Homo sapiens: one gene and its partner. The main gene of each other region encodes a partner of the protein of the gene in region 2 in a complex. Each region holds a gene or a part of one and is shown on either strand. Other genes may lie near its edges.

What was found.
Region 1: the proteins of PIAS2 (region 2) and SUMO1 are in contact, whole or in part, in an NMR structure (PDB 2ASQ), measured with the Homo sapiens proteins. Residues at the interface, in NP_004662.2 of Homo sapiens: Lys466, Val467, Asp468, Val469, Ile470, Asp471, Leu472, Thr473, Ile474, Glu475, Asp479; in NP_001005781.1 of Homo sapiens: Tyr21, Lys23, Val26, Glu33, Ile34, His35, Phe36, Lys37, Val38, Lys39, Thr42, Lys46, Leu47, Ser50, Tyr51, Gln53, Arg54.

Annotation. Positions count from the first base shown.
Region 1 is NC_000002.12:202,214,578-202,221,603, reverse strand, and holds part of SUMO1 (small ubiquitin-related modifier 1 isoform a precursor), read left to right. Parts: intron 1-1,497; coding exon 1,498-1,572; intron 1,573-7,026. UniProt on the Homo sapiens protein: Ubiquitin-like protein that can be covalently attached to proteins as a monomer or a lysine-linked polymer.
Region 2 is NC_000018.10:46,914,490-46,921,833, forward strand, and holds the start of PIAS2 (E3 SUMO-protein ligase PIAS2), read right to left. Parts: upstream 3,019-7,344; 5' UTR 2,857-3,018; coding exon 2,833-2,856; intron 1-2,832. UniProt on the Homo sapiens protein: Functions as an E3-type small ubiquitin-like modifier (SUMO) ligase, stabilizing the interaction between UBE2I and the substrate, and as a SUMO-tethering factor.

The sequences.
Region 1 (7,026 bases), on a different chromosome or scaffold from region 2:
TTCTTTTAATTGTTGAATGTTAAAGAATTTTGTATTTTAAGTTACTGGCATGAGATACACAGGTAATGGTTATGGTTATTCTTATCAAATACGGATTAACTGCTTGAAATTATTACGGATAATAAGGTATATATCTAAATAAGTGGGTAATTTGGTGGCCAAACTAAGGTGTAGCACATAGAGAAAAAAAGCTACTTTTTTACCACATTATTCATGAAATTTTCCAAGGTACCCCCTTTACTAAAAATGATTTGCTTATTCTTGAGATACTTCATGGTGAAGTTGTTTTAACTAATTTATTCTGTTAACCTCATTTTCATTTCAGTATCTCTTTATTGGAAATTGTTTTGTAACTGTTTTTGTGATCTTTTTTTTTTTTTTTTTGAAGAGATGAGGTCTTGCTATGTTGTCCAGGCTGGCCTCCAACTCCTGGGCTCTCAAGCAGTCCTAGTGCCACAGCCTCTCAAGTATCTTGTCCTCCTATTTTTGTCTCCTCTTTTAAACTTAAGCATTATGCTTCGGATAGTCTAAAATAATTGATTATATAAAACTGATTCGTTTTGACTCCAGAGTACATTAGGCTAATACTTTCTTATTTGATTTTCCTTTCTAAATAGCCTTGCTTGGCTGGGCACTGTGGCTCACGCCTGTAATCCCAGCACTTTGGGAGGCCGAGGTGGGCAGATCACCTGAGGTCGGGAGTTTGAGACCAGCCTGACCAACATGGAGAAACCCTGTCTCTACTAAAAATACAAAATTAGCCGGGTATGGTGGTGCATGCCTGTAGTCCCAGCTACTCGGGAGTCTGAGGCAGGAGAATTGCTTGAACCTGGGAGGCAGAGGTTGCGGTGAGCTGAGATCGAGCCATTGCACTCCAGCCTGGGCAACAAGAGCGAAACTGTCTCAAAAAAATAATAAATAATAGCCTTGCTTATGCTAATATGATTAATTTACATTTCTTAGTACAGTTTTGTAGTTAAAGTAAACTCCTCATGATAGGCTGTGAGAAGATAATCTTGGATTCAGAAGTTTGTCTAAAAATTCATGGAGGATGAACTTCCTTTGTGCTGGTAAGAGCTGGCTGTAGGGCAGTTGTTTCCAAGTTGTTCCTCTGGCCAGTAGTATCGGTACCACCTGGTAATTTGTTAGAAAGAGATTCTTATCCCTACTACAAATGTGCTGAATAAGAAACTGGGTCTTGGGCCCAGCAGTTTGTTTAACACGTCCTTCAGCTGATTTTGATGCGTGGTAAAGTTTTAGACCATTACTATGGGGTATTATAATAAAAGAGACCCCTTTCTTGATTTCTAGTGAATGGCGTTTGGGACAGTAATTGACTTAGGATTTTTTTTTCTTAATTGACTGGCATGGAAAAGAAATGCTGTTTGTATTCTCAGGTGCAGATTTTGCATCCTGAATGAAAGTAATGGATACTCATAAGTGAGTAATTAAAATAGCATGTAGGAACTTTTATCTTGAAATTTAATTTTCTTTCAGGAGGCAAAACCTTCAACTGAGGACTTGGGGGATAAGAAGGAAGGTGAATATATTAAACTCAAAGTCATTGGACAGGTGAGTTTCATTGTTTTTCTCTTTTGAGTCCCCTTCAATGTGAATACTTTTTCACAGGAAAAAAAATTATTTAAGGCAAATTATTTTAAAATGACTATGTATGCATTTTAATTTACTGTGTATGCATCTGTTAGAGGTAGAAGAGGCCGATACTGTTTTTTAAATTACTCTGCCAGGCAGTTTTAGATCATCTTAATTTTTCCAAATAGGAATGTTTTCTTGGTTAGTGTGCTTCAGGGGCAAATACAGTGAATACTATTAAGTGTTAAGGCTAGGGCCAACCTTAAGTAAAAGGTTTATCAGCCCTTTTCCTGACCCTTTTCTGGCCCCCTATTTCCCTAGACTCTAGTCTGTATCTTTTTTTTTTTTGAGATGGAGTCTTGTTCTGTCACCCAGGCTGGAGTGCAGTGGTGCGATCTCGGCTCACTGCAAGCTCCGCCTGCCGGGTTCACGCCATTCTCCTGCCTCAGCCTCCCAAGTAGCTGGGACTACAGGCGCCCGCCACCATGCCCGGCTAATTTTTTTTGTATTTTTAGTAGAGACGGGGTTTCACTGTGTTAGCCAGGGTGGTCTTGATCTCCTGGCCTCGTGATCCGCCAGCCTCGGCCTCCCAAAGTGCTGGGATTACAGGCGTGAGCCACCGCGCCTGGCTCTAGTCTGTATCTTATTGATTCTGAAATGTTAATTAAGGTTAGCTAACAACCGTTGGAGGAATGAATCTACATAGTTACGTGGGTTTTCTAAAGGACAAAAGACAGAGAATTGGTGGAAGGGTGGACTCGCCCAGGATGGAGTGCAGTGGTATTTCTATTGAAGTGTGACAGTACCATTTCCCTATATTCTCCCAAACATGGGATATTAACAGTCTTTAAATTTTGTTCAAATATGCTAGGTAAAACATTTTTGTTTATTTTTCATTTACCTGATTATTAATAAGGTATAATTTTTTTGGTCTGTTACATTTATATTCTTCTGTTAATTGTGTTCATACCCTTTTCCCATTTTTCTGTGATTATCTTATTTTGAAGACTTTTATTTTTTATTTTCAAAATTTTTTAAATTTAAATTTTATTTTGAAATGGAGTTGTGCTCTTGTTGGCAGGCTGGAGTGCAATGGCGTGATCTTGGCTCACTGCACCCTTCACTCCTGGGTTCAGGTGATTCTCCTGCCTCAGCCTCCCGAGTAGCTGGGACTACAGGTGCCTGCCACGAAGCCTGACTAATTTTTTTAAAAAATATTTTTAGTAGAGACGGGGTTTCCCCATGTTGGCCAGGCTGGTCTCGAACTCCTGACCTCAGGTGATCCCCACCCGTCTCGGCCTCCCAGAGTTCTGGGATTACAGGTGTGAGCCACCATGCCGGCTTTATTTTGAAAACTTTTAAAAGATAAAATTCACATACTATAAAATTCACTATTTTAAAGTATATAATTCAGGGGCTTTAGTATTATTCACAAGTGTGTGCAGCCATCACCACTACTAATTCCAGAACATTTGCATTACCCCAAAAAGACACCCTGTACCCATTAGCAGTCATTCCCCATCCTATTTCCTCCAGCCAGTGACAACCATGATTCTACTTTCTGTCTCTATAGGTTTGCCTTTTGTGGACATTACATATAAATGGAATCATAAGATATATGGCTTTTTTTTTTTTTTTTTTTTTTTGAGGCAAGGGTCTCGCTGTGTCACCCAGGCTGGAGTGCAGTGGCCTGATCTCAACTCACTGCGACCTCAACCTCCTGGGTTCAAGCGACCCTCCTGCCATAGCCTCCTGAGTAGCTGGGATTTCAGGTGTGCACCACCATGCCCAGCTAATTTTTGTATTTTTAGTAGAGATGGGGTTTCGCCATGTTGGCCAGGCTGGTCTCAAACTCCTGACCTCAGATGATCCGCCTACCTCGGCCTCCCACAGTGTTGGGATTACAGGCATGAGCCACCATGCCTAGCTTTGATATGTGACTTTTTATTCTGGTTTGTTTCTTCTTTTCTGCCTTGCTTCCCTGTTCCTCTTCCCCTCCCTCCCCTCCCCCCCTCCCCATCCCCGTCTCCCTCTCCAGGGTTCTCGCTATGTTGCTCAGGCTGGTCTTGAACTCTTGGGCTTAAGTGATTCTCCCTCTTTGGCCTAAAGTTCTGGGATTATAGGTGTGAGCCACTATGCCTGGCCTGGCTTCTTTGTTTTAGCATGTTTTCAAGGTTCATTCATGCTGTAGCATGTATCAGTACTATATTCCTTTTAATGGCTGAATTCTGTTCCATTATATGGGTAGAATATATTTTGTTTTCCATTTATCAGTTGATATTTAGTTTGTCCCCATATTTTGGCTACTATTAATAATGTTGCTGTGAACATTCATGTGTGTTTTTGTATGGACATATGTTTTCAGCTCCCTTGGATATATACCTAGGAGTGGAATTGCTGGGTCTAGTATGCAACTATATGTTTTACTTTTTGAGGAACTGCCAAACTGTTTTCAGCAGTGGCCCTACCATCTTACATTCCTAGCAGCAACATATGAGGGTTTCAGTTTTTCCATATTCTGGTCAACACTTGTAATTATCCGTATTTTTGGTTATAATCCTAGTGGGTGTGAAGTGGTATCTCACTGTGGTTTCAACTTGCTCTTTCCTGATGGCTAATGATGCCAAGCATTTTTTTATGTACTTATTGGCCATTAGTACATCTTCTTTGGAAAAATGAAGTTCTTTAGATCTTTTGCCCATTTTTAAATTGGGTTAGTTGTCTTTTTATTGTTGAGTGGTAATATGTCTTTTATTCTGGGTATTAGACCTTTATCATATATATGATTTGCATGGATTTTCTCCTATCTTTGAGTTGTCTTTTCACTTTCTTGGTTTTATTCTTTGCAGCGTAAAGTTTTTAATTTTGGTAAATTAAGTTCATCTGTTTTTTCTTTTGTTGCTTGTAATTTATCTAAGAAACCATTACCTAATCCAGGGTCACAAAGGTTTACGCTTGTGGTTTAAGAGTTTTAAGGCTGGGCACAATGGCTCACACCTGTAATCTCAGCATTTTGGGAGGCCAAGGTGGGCAGATTGCTTGAGCTCAGGAGCTGGAGACCAGCCTGGGCAACATGGCGAAACCCCATCTCTACAAAAAATATAAAAAATTAGTAGGGCGTGGTGGCACATGCCTGTAGTCCCAGCTACTCAGGAGGCTGAGCAGGGAGAATCACTTGAGCCTGGGAGGTCAAGGCTGCAGTAAGCTGTGATCACGTGACTGTACTCCAGTCTGGGTGACAGAGTGAGACCCTGTCTCAAAAAAAAAAAAAAAAAAGTTTTATGGTTTTATTTATAGTTTTAGCTCTTACATTTAAATCTTTCATCATTTTGAATAATTTTTTATGGGTGTTTGTCCCAGACCATTAGTTGAAAAGACTGTCCTTTTCTCACTGAATTGTTCTGGTATCCTTGTCAAAAAATTGACTATAGATATAAGGGTTTTTTCTTGGCTCTCAATTTTATGCCATTGATCTATCTATATGTCCATATGCCATGGAATGTCTTTTTAAGAATTATTAATTTGTGGGATTTTTAAAAATATTGTCTTCATTTTCCTTGTCTGTTACATGTTATGAATATTTCCTCCAGTATGTCTTAACTTTTGTTTATGGCATCTTTTACTATACAGACGTTTTATGTTTTTATTAAGTCAAATTTATCCACCTCTTTTTTTTATGGTTTCTAGGTTAAAATCATGCTTTGCAATAGGGCATCCCAAGGCCAAAATTAGGGGAAAAAAATTCTCCCTTGAGGGGAAAATATTGAGAATTTTTTTTTTTTTTTTTTTGATGTGGAGCCTTGTCCTGTCATGCAGGCTGGAGTGCAGTGGTACTTCCGGCTCACTGCAACATCCGCCTCCCAGGTTCAAGCACTTCTCCTGCCTCAGCCTCCCGAGTAGTTGGGATTACATGCAACTGTCACCACACCCGGCTAATTTTTTATATTTTTAGTAGAGATAGGGTTTCATCATGTTGGCCAGGCTGGTCTTGAACTCCTGACCTCGTGATCTGCCCGGCTTGACCTCCCAAAGTGTTGGGATTACAGGAGTGAGCCACTGCACCTGGCCAAAAAAATTTTAATGTTAGCTCTTTAATTCATCTGCAAGTGATTTTTTTTTTTTTTTTTTGAGATGGCGTCTCACTCTGTTGCCCAGGCTGGAGTACAGTGGCGAGATCTAGGTTCACTGCAGCCTCCGCGTCCTGGGTTCAAGCGATTCTCCTGCCTCACCCTCCCGAGTAGCTGGGATTACAGGCATGCGCCACCACGCCTGGCTAATTTTTTTGTATTTTTAGTAGAAATGGCGTTCACCATGTTGGTCAGGCTGGTCTCGAACTCCTGAACTCAAATGATCCTCCTGCTTTGGCCTCCCAAAGTGTTGGGATTATAGGCATGAGCCACCATGCCCAGCCTGGAATTGATTTTAATGTATAGCATGAGGTTTGCTGTAGAATTTTATCTGTTTATGAAATGATCTATGTGAAGATAATTTTATTTCTTCATAGTTACAGTCACAAGAAAAATACTGTAAATGTGCAGCTTCTGCAAATACACATTTGTGAATGTGATATGTAGTCATGAAGTTTGGCTTTGAAAGTTTACATTATGCAAGTAACAGTATTTTTTCTGAGGATTGGCTGGCTGATAGTTTGTTTCACAATCTGAGCAGAATAAAATAATTTTTGGTCTCACAAATCAGTTTGACTAACTCAGGTTCTTACTCATTTTACTCATGTGAGAGAAACCAGATTCCATGTGGTGATTTTTTTTTTTTTTTTTTTTTTGAGATGGAGTACTGTTCTGTTTCCCAGGCTGGAGTGCAGTGGCGTGTTCTTGGCTCACTGCAACCTACACCTCCTGGGTTCAAGCAATTCTTCTGCCTCAGCCTCCTGAGTAGCTGGGACTACAGGTGTGTGCCACCATGCCTGGCTAATTTTTGTATTTTTAGTAGAGACGGGGTTTCACTATACTGGCCAGGCTGGTCTTGAACTCCTGACCTTGTGATCCGCCTGCCTTGGTCTCCCAAATTGCTGGGATTACAGGCATGAGCCACTGCGCTCAGCCCCATGTGGTGATTTTTTATGGCAGGAATAAATTTCTCAGTCGCTTATTGTATAAAATTGAATTTTATACAATTAATTATTATCTAATTAACTGCTTTTCTCCTAGGCGACCACCTTCAGTGACACTTCACTTGGGGGGACAGACTTTTTGTTTTGAGTTGCTATTGGGATAAATAAAAGATGCGATAGTTCATCTTTTATTTTGACAATAGAATGGCAAATGAAGGAATGCATTTACTTAGACTTTTACTTATACTGATAATTTTAACACTCAAGACTGATTAACTTTGTTTTACTCGGTTTCTTTTGTAATGGGTATACAGTAACTTTGAGGATGATTACACTGTTTTAAGAAAACCTGTTAAGAATGC
Region 2 (7,344 bases):
GCAGCAGTCTCCAAAACTGAAATAGTCAGGCGACCCCCTTAACAGTTGCCTAATCGAATAACCAACCCTCCCCCCCCCAACTCCACCCCCGACACACAAGTCTGAAAAGCAAAGGCACCAGGGTCACCAAACCACACTGAGGATTACCTTTCCCAAAATTCCCTATCTCCAGTATAGATGCAGCACTAGCCAGGATATGAACTGCTCTGGTTATACTTGTCCAAAATGAGTAGCCTTGAAGGGTAATGGAAATCCTCTCTGTGGCATATCAGCAGCCAAATATGTGGCATCCAGATCGGCTGACCAATTTCTCTACTGCCAAGAAGTTAGCCAACAAACTAATGCCCAAAATTTTTCCTGGTCCTATAATTTACTTGAGCATCACTCTGACCACCACAATATATTCTGATCCAAGGACCATCATTTTGAGAATCCAAGATTATTTCTTCCCCTTTTCTTTCTTTCTATTCCGTTTTTTAGTCTGTTTTTCTTCCTTTATTATAATGTCACACAAGAAGGATGTTACCAATCATTTAATTTAGGAGCAATCGCAGGATGATGGCTAGAAGCTCCACCTAGACCCCAAGGTACCAGAACAAAGTAGTGTAGCCCGGGCTCTGAAAAGCCCAGACTCTAAAAGCTACATGTCTAAGATTAAAAATCTTAGCTTTTCAAATCTCAAGCTGTGTGATTTAGGTCAGGTTAACCTCTCTGTGCTTCAATTTCTTGAAAAAATTGTGAGAATTAAATAAGTATAGAAAAAATGCTTAGACCAGAACCAGGCATGGAATAACCACTATATTAAAATGGGTATATACCATCATCATCATTACTGTCTGTAATGGGATGTAAGGGCGGGGTACAGTTCATCTTCAAGTGTAGGGTAACATGGGTCTGCACAGAGCAGTTAAGGCAAAGAAAAGCAGATGATGCTTACTGCATGTGCCCAGCCTGCACCCCTCACTCCTCTGAAAATTCTCCCCAGTTAGTCTCTGTTGGGCACGTCATATGAATTGTGGGAGAGGGGCCATCTTCTAAAAATGCAAGAAGTAAAGACAGCTGATTTACAGGAAAAGAGGATGAAGCTGATCCACAAACCAAAACAGAGAGGAAGGCAGAAAGGAAGAGAAAAAAAAGCTTCTTTGGTTTCTATCACTTTCCAGTTGCTGGTTGCACTCCAATCTGAGCACTGACTGCTTTTACTCTGCTCTATAAGAGCGAGTAAATTCTTCGCTTTACATTAAGCTTTGGCCAACAACATTCACAAGAGTCTAATAAAAATCCTGGAAAGTTTTCATTAACAAAAAAAAAAAAAAGAACTTAGAAAACTTGTATACATCTGTTACTACACAAAAATTAAAAATGGCAGGTAAAAATAAATATAACTTCAGAGTTCAGTCTTCTCAACCCATCCTAAATCTAACGCATGAATTTACAGAGGTGAGGTTCAGGGTTCGTTGTTTGAAAAGCTCCACAGGTGTTAAAAGCTCTACAGCTGGGGCTCTGAGCCACTAAAACCCTTAAACTTATCAAGTATGAACACCCTTTACCTACACTTATGGTTCTCTGCATAAACTAGTATGGGGCATAACATGTATTAATATGTGTTTACTGGGAACTTAATAATTATTTTTGAAACAGCAGGAGGGAATATGGCAGGCACTGTGCAAACTCCAACAATCTCCGTTTAGAGCAGAGGATACGTTCTTTTGCTCACGTCCACTAAGCAGGTAACCAGCCAACATCCTTCCCCCATCCCATCTCTTGCGGAAAACAATAAATATACAAAACTGAACCTTTTACCGGATTCCTCTTCCTTATTTGAAAAAGAAATCCTAATATCATAAGTGTTACACAAACGAGTTGCAGTAAATGTAATTTCAAGTTTACACTCATCTCTACCTTGATACATTTAAAAAAAAAAAAAATCAGGGTTTCTGTCCGTAAACATCTCATTTATGTCGCCAGTAATTCAGCGATACACACAAATCCATCTCATTCGTCACACTTAGTTAGGACTTTAAAGGTTATCAGTCTGGGGGGAAAAAGTCTCTTCTGTTCTACCCCCATCACAGCCCTATTCCAGACCTCTGCTATACAAGGGTATCAACAATAAAGTTATGATCTTGTTTTAAGACTGAGAAGAAAAAAATATTTTTCCTCAAGAGTAAAAGGGGTGCACAAACCTCACAACATAGACTTTGCAGATTTCTTACTAAAACACTAAGAAAATATCGAGGTTTAAGGCCGATTATTGAAGGCAGGGATCCCCAAACATTAGGTTCCTCGAAGATGTTAGGAGGCAAGGGTGGGAGAAGGGGCCTTTTCTCGTGACAGACCTGACTAAACGGTAGCATCAGCCATAAGAAGAGGAGAGATTCCTAAACGCAACTTCAGCTTTCAGAAAACAGTCCTCCACCAAGTGAGTAGCATGCAGACTTGTGAATAGCCACAGACACGTACACCCCGGTGAAGGTGCAAGATCAAACGTTGCTTCCCACATCGGCCCTCACTGCGAACCGGGATGTCGGGTCCCCATGTGCCCCTCCTGGAGGGCGCCCCGACCCCCCGCGCCAGGTGTGCGGACCACTGGCAGCACTCAGGAGCCGGCTCGCCGCGGCCCAGGCCCGCCGCCCCCGCGCCGCCCGCGTGCCCTCCGCCGGCCCGCTCCCCTCCCCCGCGCCCTCGGCGCCCGTTCGTCCGCGGGCCGGGGCTCAGGGCTCCGCCAACCGGCCCCAGAGGCACGAGCAGGCGGCGGCCGGCGACGTTGCGGTTTCCCCACCTCCTCTCCCATCCCCTCCCCCGCGGCCTCCGCTCTCCACTCCCGCTTACCCTCAACTCTTCGAAATCCGCCATTTTATACCACCCGCGGGCGCCGCCGCCGCTGCCGCCGCACCCACTCCCGCTGCCGCCAACGACGCTGCCGCCACCACGGCCGCCGCCGCCTCCAGCACCATCCTGCACTGGGCGCCGCTTAAGACGCCGCGGCCGCCGCCGCTACAGCCGGGCCCGTCACGTGAACGGCGCGGGAGCTCCGCCTCCGACGCGCCGAAGCCCCGCCCCTAGCGGTGCCCCCTGCCCACCCGCGCGACCGCCTTCCGCCCGCGCCTTCAGTCCGCGCGGCGACAGCGCCCGCCCGCGCCTGCCCCGGCGTGCTGCCCCGCGGCTTGGCCCCGCTCGGCCCCAGGTCGTGCCTTCCCTCCCCGGCGGAGGCCCCTGCGGACTGCCTAGAGCTGGGTCGCAACTGAGGCGTTATCCGCGGGCCTGGCCTCGGGAAGTGGCGGGGAGGAAGAAGAGGCGGCCGGGACGCGTGACAGGAGCATTCGGGAAGATTCTTACGGTGCCCTTCACGCGGTGCCTATGGACGGAGAAAGCCGCCGCAAATAAAACCATCCCCCAGAGTAGTTGTGGCGGAATAATCTAAATATGGGTGTTGGGTAAGCTATTGTTCCCATCTAATGGTGAGGTTGTGTGACACCTCTTTGAATTGCTAATGTCCTGCAAGTACCAACCTTGCCGAGTTTTTCTGACCTTGAAGGGCACCTGAAGGTCACGGACTGCAGAGTTGGGAGAGTTAGGCGGTGGGGTTGGGGGCGGGGAGAAGTGAAATAAGAGCGCTCAGAAGGGCCATGCTAAAAAGTCGGGGAAATCTGATAGCTAGGAAGGAGTCAAACGCCAAGGCAGAGTAAGTAGATAGAAGGAAGCTTGATGGCCCCCCCGTAATGTGCTGATATAGGATGAAGGAAGATGCTGAGTCAAGATGGCCAGAAAAATCGCTGGACGGTGTCCAGGGTTCAATTTCCTTGAAGAATTGGGTGGAACCCACACACGAGAGGTCTTTAAAACAATGTAACTTTTAAGGCCCTGTTTAATCAGCCTCCTACCTACCGCCTCTTCCCACTACCCCTCGTTTCATCCGCACTGCACTTCCAGGTCTTCCTTCCACTCCCCTGCCCCCGCACCCCGCAAGTTTTGTTTTTTTGAGACGGAGTTTTGCTCTTGTTGCCCAGGCTGGAGTGCAATGGCACGATCTCGGCTCACCGCAATGTCTGCCTCCCGGGTTCAAGCGATTCTCCTACCTCCGCCTCCCGAGTAGCTGCGATTGTATTTTTGGTAGAAACGAGGTTTCTCCAAGTTGGTCAGGCTGGTCTCCAACTCCGGACCTCAGGTGATCCGCCCGCCTCGGCCTCCCAAAGTACTGAGATTACAGGCGTGAGCCACTGCACCCGGCCTCCCCTCAAGTTTTAAGGCTTCTAAATGTTGATCCTTGAACCAAGAATAATTTCCCACTCTCTTCTTTGTTCCTAACTCCTGTTCATCCTTCAGGTTTCACTTTAAGTGTCACTTCCTCAGGAAGACCATCCCTCACCCACATCCCACATTTTAATTCAAATTCCCCTGTTATGACCTCTCCTAGGACCCTGAACTTTTTCTTCCTGAGATGTCTCCATGGTAATTATGTAGGTATTTGTGTAATTGTTTATTTGATATATATGTGTGTGCGTGTATATATATATATGTGTGTGTGTGTGTGTGTGTGTGTTGTGTATATATACACAACACACACACATATTGTTTTGGCCAGGTGCAGTGGCTCATGCCTGTAATCCCAGCACTTTAGGAAGCCGAGGCAGGTGGATCACTTGAGGTCGGGAGTTGCAGACCAGCCAGGCCAACATGGTGAAACCCTGTCTCTACTAAAAATACAAAAATTAGGCCAGGAGCTGTGGCCCACGCTCTAAATTCCAGCACTTTGGGAGGCAGAGGCGGGCGGATCACCTGAGGTTGGGAGTTGGAGGCCAGCCTGACCAACATGGAGAAACCCCGTCTCCACCAAAAATGCAAAATTAGCCAGGCGTGGTGGCGCATTCCTGTAATCCCAGCTACTCCGGAGACTAAGGCAGGAGAATCGCTTGAACCCTGGAGGCGGAGGTTCCAGGGAGCGGAGATAGCGCCATTGCACTCCAGCCTGGGCAACAAAAGCGAAACTCCATCTCAAAAAAAAAAAAATTAGCCGGGTGTGGTGGCACATGCCTGTAATCCCAGCTACTCGTGAGGCTGAGACAGGAAAATTGCTTGAACCCAGGAGGTGGAGGTTGCAGTGAGCTGCGATCGCACCATTGCACTCCAGCCTGGGCAACAGAGTGAGACTTTGTCTCAAAAAATAAAAATTATTATTTTAAAATTTTATGTTAAAAAATTGTAAACCCACTAGACTATAATGGCTGATAAATGCCTAACAAATAGTTGGCCTTGTATTTGTTTAATGAATAAAGGAATGAATGAACAATGTCCAGGTTCTAAATCTGTCTCTCCACCATTAACTTTGTGATCTTCGCTTGGCTTATTCTTACTCTTGATTTATTCTCCGTAGACCTTGATTTACACCTCAGTAGAATTTAACATTGTTTAGTAGGCTTTAAGTGAATGCCACTGTGGGAGGAGTTTTCGGGGAATAGACGAATAGAGTACAATACAGCCCTGCCACAGAGGAGCTTACACCCATAAAGAGGACCAACATAAACACAAAACAGTAAGAAAAGAAAAGCAAAGCCCCACTGAAACTTACGTGCAGTGTTCTTTGTAGTTGCTTCCCAGCATTCATTCTGCCCCTTCCTCAATGTGTAGCAGCTCCTGGATGGGTTGGGTAGGTTTGACTGCAAAGAGTTCTAGGTGCTGCCCTAGACTGGCCTGAGTCATTAAGGACTGTTATGTCATTCTGGCCACAGTATTAGATCACAACTGGGCATATAAATCTGATTAGTACTGAGCATTTATAGGCTTTGCCAAGTAGATCAAGTGTGGACCCGTGCCCTAAGGTAGGCTAATCAGAGGGAAGCCTAGGACATTTATTCAGTGATTAGAGATAAGACTTTCTGGCATGTGGAACACTCGCCATTTTGCTACAGTGAAGAGCCAACCTGAGAACCAACCCTTCTTGTGAGCAGAAAAATCACACACACACAAAATCTCAGCATTGACTTTGATACTCACTCTGCCTCTGTACTGGCCAGTTTTCTTGAGCCAATGCCTTTCTTGTAAGGTTTTAGATTGTTTGAGTTGAGATTTCTATTAGTTGCAATAGAAAGAATTCTGAAATAGGGTGCTACTTTGTCTCACCAGACCAGATTATTAATTTGGCATTTTTTCTAATCTATACTCCCCAATAATCATTCAATATATGTTCAAAGGAATGGCTGAGTGGTAAAGGGTAGAAAGGGCATGTTTCTCTTCACTGTTGTGATCATTTCTGCTCTGGTCTAGATTTATATATCCTCATTAAAAAGAAATCCCTGCACTTACTTGAATCCAACTTCCTTATAACATAGTAATGTGGTATACCCTTAAAGGGGAGTGGAGAAGGAGGGAGGTGCAGTAATCTTATCACTCACAAAAGGCCACATATCAAAGTACCAGTGCCAGCCACATGCTGAACTCTTCTACCAGAGGAATTCTATTAAATATATCCTTTTTCTTTATTACATTTCCAATGGTAAAATGTTTTAGTGCTCTTTATGGATTGAATCTCCAGGCAATTACCTGACTAGGCTACCGTCTTAAAATGGCTCCAAATTAGAAGATTCATTATAAGTACTGTGATTAAAGTGTCCTAAGTTTTTTTGTTTGTTTGTTTTTTGTTTCTGTTTTTGCTTTTTGGGACGGAGTCTCGCTCTGTTGCCCAGTCTGGAGTGCAGTGGCACGATCTCGGCTCACTGCAACCTCTGCCCCCCCGAATTTAAGCAATTCTCTGCCTCAGCCTCCCAAGTAGCTGGGATTACAGGCACCCGCCACCATGCCCAGCTAATTTTTGTACTTTTAGTAGAGATGGGGTTTCACCGTCTTGGTCAGGCTAGTCTTGAACTCCTGACCTCGTGATCCACCTGCCTTGGCCTCCCAAAGTGCTGGGATTACAGGCATGAGCTACTGCGCCTGGCATAAAGTGTCATAAGATTTTAATACACGAAGTCAAAAATCTCAGGAGTAGCTTTTCCATTTACTAGCTGTGTAACTTTAGCAAAGTCTCAACTTAATTTTTCTAATCTGGAAAAGAAAAATGACTACACCTATCTCAGGATGAGATACCTGATCTGATAGATCAGGTGTATGAGTGTACTCTGTAAATTTATAAAGTGAAAGATGGTAAATTTTTTGTATCTAAACAGCTAAGCTGATTTTGAATCTAAACAGCTGATAAACACATAACAAAAAAAAAAAAGCACTTCATTAAGAAACATAATTAAGAACCATATGATATATCCTAGTAATTTTAGCAAAGAGCATTCCAACCTGGTTGGACCAACCATGTAACCTTGAGTTTAGTTCCAAGCACCTGTCTTCTTAATC